Regions from separate parts of the Homo sapiens genome. Here region 2 is linked to region 1. The links come from fine-mapping of genetic effects on gene expression. A gene starts in region 1. The other region holds a variant in brackets. All regions are shown on one strand. Distances are from middle to middle. Region 1 holds the start of JAK3 (Janus kinase 3). Region 2 overlaps JAK3 (Janus kinase 3).

Region 1 (4,514 bases):
CATTCCCGTCTGCTGAAGCCACCCAGGAAGTGAAAGAAAACACTACAACTAAGCTTCTGCTTGGCACTTCCTGCCGCAGGTCAGCTGTGGCTCCACTAAGCTCCACTAAGCTGAGGACATAATCTATATCTCTTTCCCTTGACCCACGCGGCCCTACCCACGCCATCAAATGAGTCTCAGCCCCCCGTGTCCCTGACATCCTGCTCTTCTCAGGAACACTGTGAATTCGTGAAGCCTCCAGGCCTTTGCCTGGGCTGTTCTGCCTGCCAGAACTGCCCACACTCCCACATTCTCAGGTCACTCTCTGGCTAGTCCCACTTGTTGTTGGATTTCAGAATCAAAGCCACCTCCTCCAGGAAGCCCTCCCAGATCCAGTCATCTCTCTTAGCAGACCGGTCCCAGGGGCAACTGATATAATTATTGGGCAATAGCTTGTTTATTGCCATCTCCCCTGCTGGACTGTCAGCTCCCCTGGACAGGGATTGGGTCTGCATTGTCCCCGATTCCCTGCACACAGGCTGTGTCCAATAAGCCTCTGGCTGATTGAACAGTTAAGATCAACAAAATACTTACCAAACCATTTTGTGTTAAGACTTGTGATGGTGATACAGAGATGAAAAGTCTTTTTTTTTTTTTTTTTGAGACGGGATCTCACTCCCATTGCCCAGGCTGGAGTGCAGTGGCATGACCACAGCTAACTGCAGCCTCAACTTCCTGGGCTCAGGTGATCCTCCCACCTCAGCCTCCCCTAGTAGCTGGGACTACAGGCACATGCCACCACATCCAGCTTATTATTTTGTTGTTGTTGTATTTTTTGTAGAGACAGGGTTTCACCATGTTGCCCAGGCTGGTCTCGAACACCTGGGCTCAAGCCATCCTCCTGCCTGAGCCTCCCAAAGTGCTGAGATTACAGGTGTGAGCCACTGTTCTTGGCCACAACTTCTTAAATCTATTCCTTTTTTTTTTTTTGAGACAGAGTATTGCTCCGTCGCCCAGGCTGGAGTGCGGTGGCACAATCTCAGCTCACTACAACCTCCGCCTGCCTCCTGGGTTCCAGTGATTCTCCTGCCTCAGCCTCCCAAGTAGCTGGGATTACAGGCACATGCCACCACGCCCAGCTAATTTTTATATTTTTAGTAGAGATGGGGTTTCACCATGTTGGCCAGGCTGGTCTCGAACTCCTAGGCTCAAGCAATCTTCCCACCTGGGCCTTCCAAAGTGCTGGAATTACAGATGTGAGCCACTGTACCCGGTCACCACTTCGTCAGTCTATTCCTGAAGCTCTACTTCCGGGGCTCTGATCCTATTATCCTAAGAACACTGGCCCAAGTCTCTGCATTTGGATGCTGCCCGGGCCTTCTGCCTCTTCTATTTATAACAGCTCCTACTTCCAACTCTCCTGTGGCTCCAGATTATGCTCCAGGCAAAACCCACCCTTCTCCCAAAGACCCTGATCCCCCTGTCCCCCCACGATCTTGCCCCTGTTGACCGCCCTGCAGTCCCCTTCCCCCTCATCTCACCCCTGCCCCTGGCCTCCTGACTGCTCTTCAAGCTGCTAAGATCACTGCCCTCTCAAGGTCTTTGCCCATCCTGTGCCCTCCTCCTGGAGCACCCTTTCCCTGGCCAGCTCCCTGTCCTGCCTCGGGTCCAAGTTCCAGTCTGTGCCTGTCCTGACACCCTGGCTTTCTTTGTTGTCTGCGATGATTTGGCTCCTTCATTTGCTCATTGTCTCAGCGCCAGATCACAAGTTCCAAGAGGCCAGGCCGGATCCACCTGGTTTTTTAGGGCTGGGCCCAGGGCACCACAGGCAGAAATGGGTCATTATCTCTCCCTGAGTCTTTTCTTTTTTTTTTAAACGAAGTCCCGCTCTGTTGCCAGGCTGGAGTGCAGTGGCGCCATCTCGTCTCACTGTAACATCCGCCTCCTAGATTCAAGCAATCCTCCCACCTCAGCCTCCTGAGTAGCTAGGATTACAGGCATCACCAGGCCTGGCTAATTTTCCTGTTTTTAGTAGAGACAGGGTTTCATCATGTTGGCCAGGCTGGTCTCAAACTCCTGACTTCAAGTGATCCGCCCGCCTCAGCCTCCCAAAGTGCTGCGATTACAGGCCACCACGCCTGGCTAATTTTTGTATTTTTAGTAGAGACGGAGTTTCGCCATGTTGGCTAGGCTGGTCTCAAACTCCTGACCTCAAGTAATCGCCCGCCTCAGTCTCCCAAAGTGCTGGGATGACAGGCGTGAGCCACTGCGCCCAGCGTCTCCCTGAGTCTTAAGGGAGAAATACCTCAAAGAAGAACTTGACCTTCCTCTGGGGCAACTTCCCTGCTTCCCTCCTGGGCAAATCCAGCCAGGTTTCCTTCCCTGGGTGCAAAATTAGTTCCACTGGGTGCCCAACTCACACATGCTACAGATGGGTAAACTGAGGCAATAAGGGCCGGGCCAGAGCCCCACTTAACAAGTGGGTCTAGAGTCGGCTGAGCCCCTGGTGTGACCCAGACCCTTCTCTGTGCTATCATCAGTTCCTTTGGCTTAGGGGTCTCCAGCAGCCTGTCTGAACGGGGCGGCTGATGCAGAGGCTTCCGGAACTTTCTGCCCCTCCTTGCCCGCCTCCCCGCCCCCAGCTCCCGCAGGGCCCTGACTTTCGGTAAATGACAGTGGCTCAGGAAACCAAGGGGCCCACACAGGAAGGAGCCGAGTGGGACTTTCCTCTCGCTGCCTCCCGGCTCTGCCCGCCCTTCGAAAGTCCAGGGTCCCTGCCCGCTAGGTAAGAGCTGGCGATGCCGCAGGGCTCGGCCCAGACACTGGGGGAGGATGGTGGTGGCGGGGGATGGCTGGGCTGGGGCAGGGTGCTGCCAGGGCAAAGGCTAGCTCGCCTTCCAGGCCTCGGAGGAAAGCTGCGAGGCAGACGTGAGCCGAGACTCGCATCCTCCGATCGCTCGCTTCTCTGGGCTTCGGCTTTGACTAAGGCCGGGAGATGCCTGCCTTGCGGACCTGGAGGAGTCATTGCGCATGCGCGACGGGGGCTGCGGGGTTGGGGGTGGGGAGGAGGGATTGGGAAGGAGGGATTGGGGGGCGGAGTTCCCAGCCCCTACCCTCCAGGCCTTCCCGGTCCAGACACAGGGTACCCGACCATACCAGGATGCAGAACGTTGAGGATTATAAACAGGGGATGCCGAGGCGGGAGGATAGCTTGAGGCCAGGAGTTCAAGGCCAGCCTGGGCAACATAGCCAGACCTCCATTTCTACAAACATTTTTAAAAAACCAAAAAAACTATGGCGTTTTCTGGGACCAAACATCACCTCTGACTTTTCATTTTTTTTTGTTACAGTATTACAGAATAATAATATTCTGTTAAGATTTTTTTGTTGTTTTGGAGATGGGAGTCTTGCTATGTTGTTCAGGCAGGTCTCTAACCCCTGGCCTCAAGCTATCCTGCTGCCTCAGCCCCCTGAGTAGCTGGGATTGCAGTGGGGCGCCACTGCCACTGAAGCCTTATTTTAAACTCGACTGGGGCTGGGCACAGTGGCTCATGCCTTTAATCCCAACACTTTGGGAGGCTGAGGCCAGCGGATCACTGGAGGTCAGGAGTTCGAGATCAGCCTGGTCAACATGGTGAAACCCTATCTCTACTAAAAACACAAAAATTAGCCAGGTTTGGTGGCGGGTGCCTGTAATTCCAGCTACTCAGGAGGCTGAGGCAGGAGAATCGCTTGAACCTGGGAGGTGGAGTTTGCAGTGAGCCGAGATCATGCCACTGCACTCCAGCCTGGGAGACAGAACAAGAATCCGTCCTCCCCCCTACAAAATAAATAAATAAATAAAAAGGCTGGGCAATGTGGCTCACGTGTGTAATCACAGCACTTTGGGAGGCCAAGGCAGGCGAATCACCTGAGGCCAGGAGTTTGAGACCAGCCTGGCCAACATGGTGAAACTCCGTCTCTACTAAAAATACAAAAATTAGCTGGGCGCTGTGGTGCGCGCCTGTAATCCCAGCCACTTGGGAAGCTGAGGCATGAGAATCGCTTGAACCCAGGAGGCAGAGGCTACAGTGAGCCAAGATCGTGCGACTGCACTCCAGCCTGGGTGACAGTGCGAGACTCCGTCTCAAAAAAACAAACAAACAAACCAAAAAACTTGATTGGCTGATGTTGAGGGGACGATAGAGAGGCTATGGTGTGTGATTTTATTTCTATAAAGGGCAAAACTAGACATCAATCTCTCTGTGGGAGAGATGGGGCTCCTCCAAGGTTCCCGGGACTAGGAATGTGCTCATTCTTGGTCTGGGCATCGGTGACATCAAAGTGTCCCTTTGGTAAGGTTCTTTCCCCCACAAGACTTCCCTTCCCACAGTAACCACCACACCGCTGTGCCAATTGCCCTTCCTGTTTGGTTTAACAGGCGTTTGTTGATCGCTTACCGGCACATCATCAAGAAATATACAAATTAATGCACATTAATTGAGTTGACACTTTAGGCCTGGATTGCGCTCAGCAGACCACCTCAATGAGGATGC
Region 2 (4,000 bases), 22 kb after region 1:
CCACCACATCCCACCCTCTCATGGTTTATAATCATATAATCATAACCTTTGTGGAAGTGTCTGACATGCAGTTGGTCATTGATAAATTAATTTGCTCAGGCCAAAAACATTTATTGAGTGCCAACTGTGTGCCAGGACTTGTTGGGTGCTGAAGACCCTGTCCTCCCAGTAACTAGCAAAATCTGATAAGAACATTCTAGGCTGGGCACGATGGCTCATGCCTATAATCCCAACACTTTGGGAGGCTGAGGCAGAAGGATCACTGGAGCCCAGGAGTTCAAGACCAGCCTGGGCAACGTAGTGAGACCTTGTCTCTACAAACAATACAAGCAATAGCCGGTGTGGTGACATGCACCTGTGGTTTCAGCTACTAGGGAGGCTGAGGCAGGAGGATCACTGGAACCCAGGAGTTCAAGACCAGCCTGGGCAACATAGTGAGACCTTGTCTCTACAAACAATACAAGCAATAGCCGGTGTGGTGACATGCACCTGTGGTTTCAGCTACCAGGGAGGCTGAGGCAGGAGGATTGCTTGAGCCCAGGAGGTTAAGGCTGCAGTGAGCCATTATTGTACCACTGCACTCCAGCCTGGACAACAGAGTGACACCCTGTCTCAAAACAAAACAAAACAAAACAAAACAAAACAAAACAAAACAAAACAAAGACAAAATTATGGTAGTGATAAGTGCCTTGAAAGAGATGAACAGAGGGAAATGGTGGGGTGGGGGTGGTCAAAGAGGGCCTCTTACGGGGCCGACGCTGGAAGGAGGAGGAGCCTACCCATGAGTAAAGCTAGGAGAAGAAATTTCCAGTGGAGGACACGGAAGGGAAAAAGGCCTTGGGGAGGTAATGAGCTGGGTGCCTTTAAGCACCAGTGCGATGGAGGCAGATGTGACTGCCCGGAACAAATGAGGGAAGGAGGGATGGAGATGAGCGAAGGAGGGCATCAGGGAGAGGTGGTGTTTTTTTGTTGTTTTTTTTTTTTTGAGACGTGGTTTTGCTCTTGTTGGCCAGGCTGGAGTGCAATGGCGCAATCTCGGCTCACCACAACTTCCGCCTCCCAGGTTCAAGCAATTCTCCTGCCTTAGACTCCCGAGTAGCTGGGATTACAGGCACACGCCACCTGTAATTTTTTTTTTTTTTTTTTTTTTTTTTTTTTTTTTTTTTTTTTAGTTAAGATGGGGTTTCTCCATGTTGGTCAGGGTAGTCTCGAAAGGAGAAGTGTGTTGTAAAATCCATAAGGGCTGGGCGCGGTGGCTCACACCTGTAATCCCAGCCCTTTAGGAGGCCGAGGTGGGTGGATTACATGAGGTCAGGAGTTCAAGACCAGCCTGACCAACATGGTGAAACCCCGTCTCTACTAAAAATACAGACTTAGCCAGGTGTGGCGGTGTGTGCATGTAATCCCAGCTACTTGGGAGGCTGAGGCAGGAGAATCGCTTGAACCCAGGAGGCAGGGTTTGCAGTGAGCCGAGATCGCACCACTGCATTCCAGCCTGGGCAACAAGAGCGAAACTTTATCTCAAATAAATAAATAAGTAAGATCCATAGGGAGCCATGGGAGTTTTTGGAGCAGAGATGGGATGGAATTTAATTTGTGTTTTAAAACTGAATGAGTGCGGTGGCTCATGCCTATAATCCCAGCACTTTGGGAGGCCAAGACAGGTGGATCACCTGAGATCAGGAATTTGAGACCAACCTGGCCAACATGGTGAAACCCTGTCTCTACTCAAAATACAAAATTAGCCAGGCGTGGTGGCACGTGCCTATAATCCCAGCTACTCAGGAGGCTGAGGCAGGATAATTGCTTGAACCCGGGAGGCGGAGGTTGCAGTGAGCCGAGATCATGCCATTGCACTCCAGCCTGGACAACAGAGCTAGACTCCGTCTCAAAAAAACAAAAACAAATACGCTGAATGGGAGTTGTGTCCTTTGGACTGCTCAGGCACGACCCCATTATCTGTCCCCCGCCCCTCAGGTTCACGAGCTCATGAAGCTGTGCTGGGCCCCTAGCCCACAGGACCGGCCATCATTCAGCGCCCTGGGCCCCCAGCTGGACATGCTGTGGAGCGGAAGCCGGGGGTGTGAGACTCATGCCTTCACTGCTCACCCAGAGGGCAAACACCACTCCCTGTCCTTTTCATAGCTCCTGCCCGCAGACCTCTGGATTAGGTCTCTGTTGACTGGCTGTGTGACCTTAGGCCCGGAGCTGCCCCTCTCTGGGCCTCAGAGGCCTTATGAGGGTCCTCTACTTCAGGAACACCCCCATGACATTGCATTTGGGGGGGCTCCCGTGGCCTGTAGAATAGCCTGTGGCCTTTGCAATTTGTTAAGGTTCAAGACAGATGGGCATATGTGTCAGTGGGGCT[CTCTG/G]AGTCCTGGCCCAAAGAAGCAAGGAACCAAATTTAAGACTCTCGCATCTTCCCAACCCCTTAAGCCCTGGCCCCCTGAGTTTCCTTTTCTGTCTCTCTCTTTTTATTTTTTTTATTTTTATTTTTATTTTTGAGACAGAGCCTCGCTCTGTTACCCAGGGTGGAGTGCAGTGGTGCGATCTCGGCTCAGTGCAACCTCTGCTTCCCAGGTTCAAGCGATTCTCCTGCCTCAGCCTCCCGAGTAGCTGGGATTACAGGTGTGCACCACCACACCCGGCTAATTTTTTTTATTTTTAATAGAGATGAGGTTTCACCATGATGGCCAGGCTGATCTCGAACTCCTAACCTCAAGTGATCCTCCCACCTCAGCCTCCCAAAGTGTTGGAATAATAGGCATGAGCCACTGCACCCAGGCTTTTTTTTTTTTAAATTTATTATTATTATTTTTAAGAGACAGGATCTTGCTACGTTGCCCAGGCTGGTCTTGAACTCCTGGGCTACAGTGATCCTCCTGCCTTATCCTCCTAAATAGCTGGGACTACAGCACCTAGTTTTGAGTTTCCTGTCTTATTTCCAATGGGGACATTCATGTAGCTTTTTTTTTTTTTTTTTTTTTGAGACGGAGTCTCGCTCTGTCGCCCAGGCTGGAGTACAGTGGCGCAATCTAGGCTCACTGCAAGCTCCGCCTCCTGGGTTCACACCATTCTCTCGCCTCAGCCTCCCAAGTAGCTGGGACTACAGGCGCCCGCCACCACACCCGGCTAATTTTTTGTATTTTTAGTAGAGACGGGGTTTCACCTTGTTAGCCAGGATGGTTTCCATCTCCTGACCTCGTGATCTGCCCGTCTCGGCCTCCCAAAGTGCTGGGATTACAGGCATGAGCCACTGCGCCCGGCCCTCATGTAGCTTTAAATGTATGATCTGACTTCTGCTCCCCGATCTCTGTTTCTCTGGAGGAAGCCAAGGACAAGAGCAGTTGCTGTGGCTGGGACTCTGCCTTTTAGGGGAGCCCGTGTATCTCTTTGGGATCCTGAAAGGGGGCAGGAAAGGCTGGGGTCCCAGTCCACCCTAATGGTATCTGAGTGTCCTAGGGCTTCAGTTTTCCCACCTGTCCAATGGGACCCTTTCTGTCCTCACCCTACAAGGGGCACAAAGGGATGACACCAAACCTGGCAGGAACTTTTCACGCAATCAAGGGAAGGAAAGGCATTCCTGGCAGAGGGAACAGCATGCCAAGCGTGAGAAGGCTCAGAGTAAGGAGGTTAAGAGCCCAAGTATTGGAGCCTACAGTTTTGCCCCTTCCATGCAGTGTGACAGTGGGCAAGTTCCTTTCCCTCTCTGGGTCTCAGTTCTGTCCCCTGCAAAATGGTCAGAGCTTACCCCTTGGCTGTGCAGGGTCAACTTTCTGACTGGTGAGAGGGATTCTCATGCAGGTTAAGCTTCTGCTGCTCCTCCTCACCTGCAAAGCTTTTCTGCCACTTTTGCCTCCTTGGAAAACTCTTATCCATCTCTCAAAACTCCAGCTACCACATCCTTGCAGCCTTCCCTCATATACCCCCACTACTACTGTAGCCCTGTCCTTCCCTCCAGCCCCACTCTGGCCCTGGGGCTGGGGAAGTGTCTGTGTCC

Evidence for each region. PIP is the estimated chance that this variant, and not a neighbour inherited with it, causes the effect. A credible set is the group of variants that fine-mapping cannot tell apart.
Region 2: its variant is the best candidate, but not a certain one, in a credible set for the expression of JAK3 in whole blood (INTERVAL, PIP 0.83).

What each region holds. Positions count from the first base shown.
Region 1 is chr19:17,846,196-17,850,709 of GRCh38, reverse strand. JAK3 (Janus kinase 3) reads left to right here and starts at 2,728. Exons shown (of 24, transcript NM_000215.4): 1 at 2,728-2,764.
Region 2 is chr19:17,824,888-17,828,887 of GRCh38, reverse strand. It overlaps JAK3 (Janus kinase 3), which reads left to right. Exons shown (of 24, transcript NM_000215.4): 24 at 1,978-4,000. The coding sequence ends at 2,145. Among named protein-coding and RNA genes, the nearest start is that of INSL3, 5.4 kb to the right of the region's middle. The variant CTCTG/G (reference allele first, on the strand shown) is at 2,369.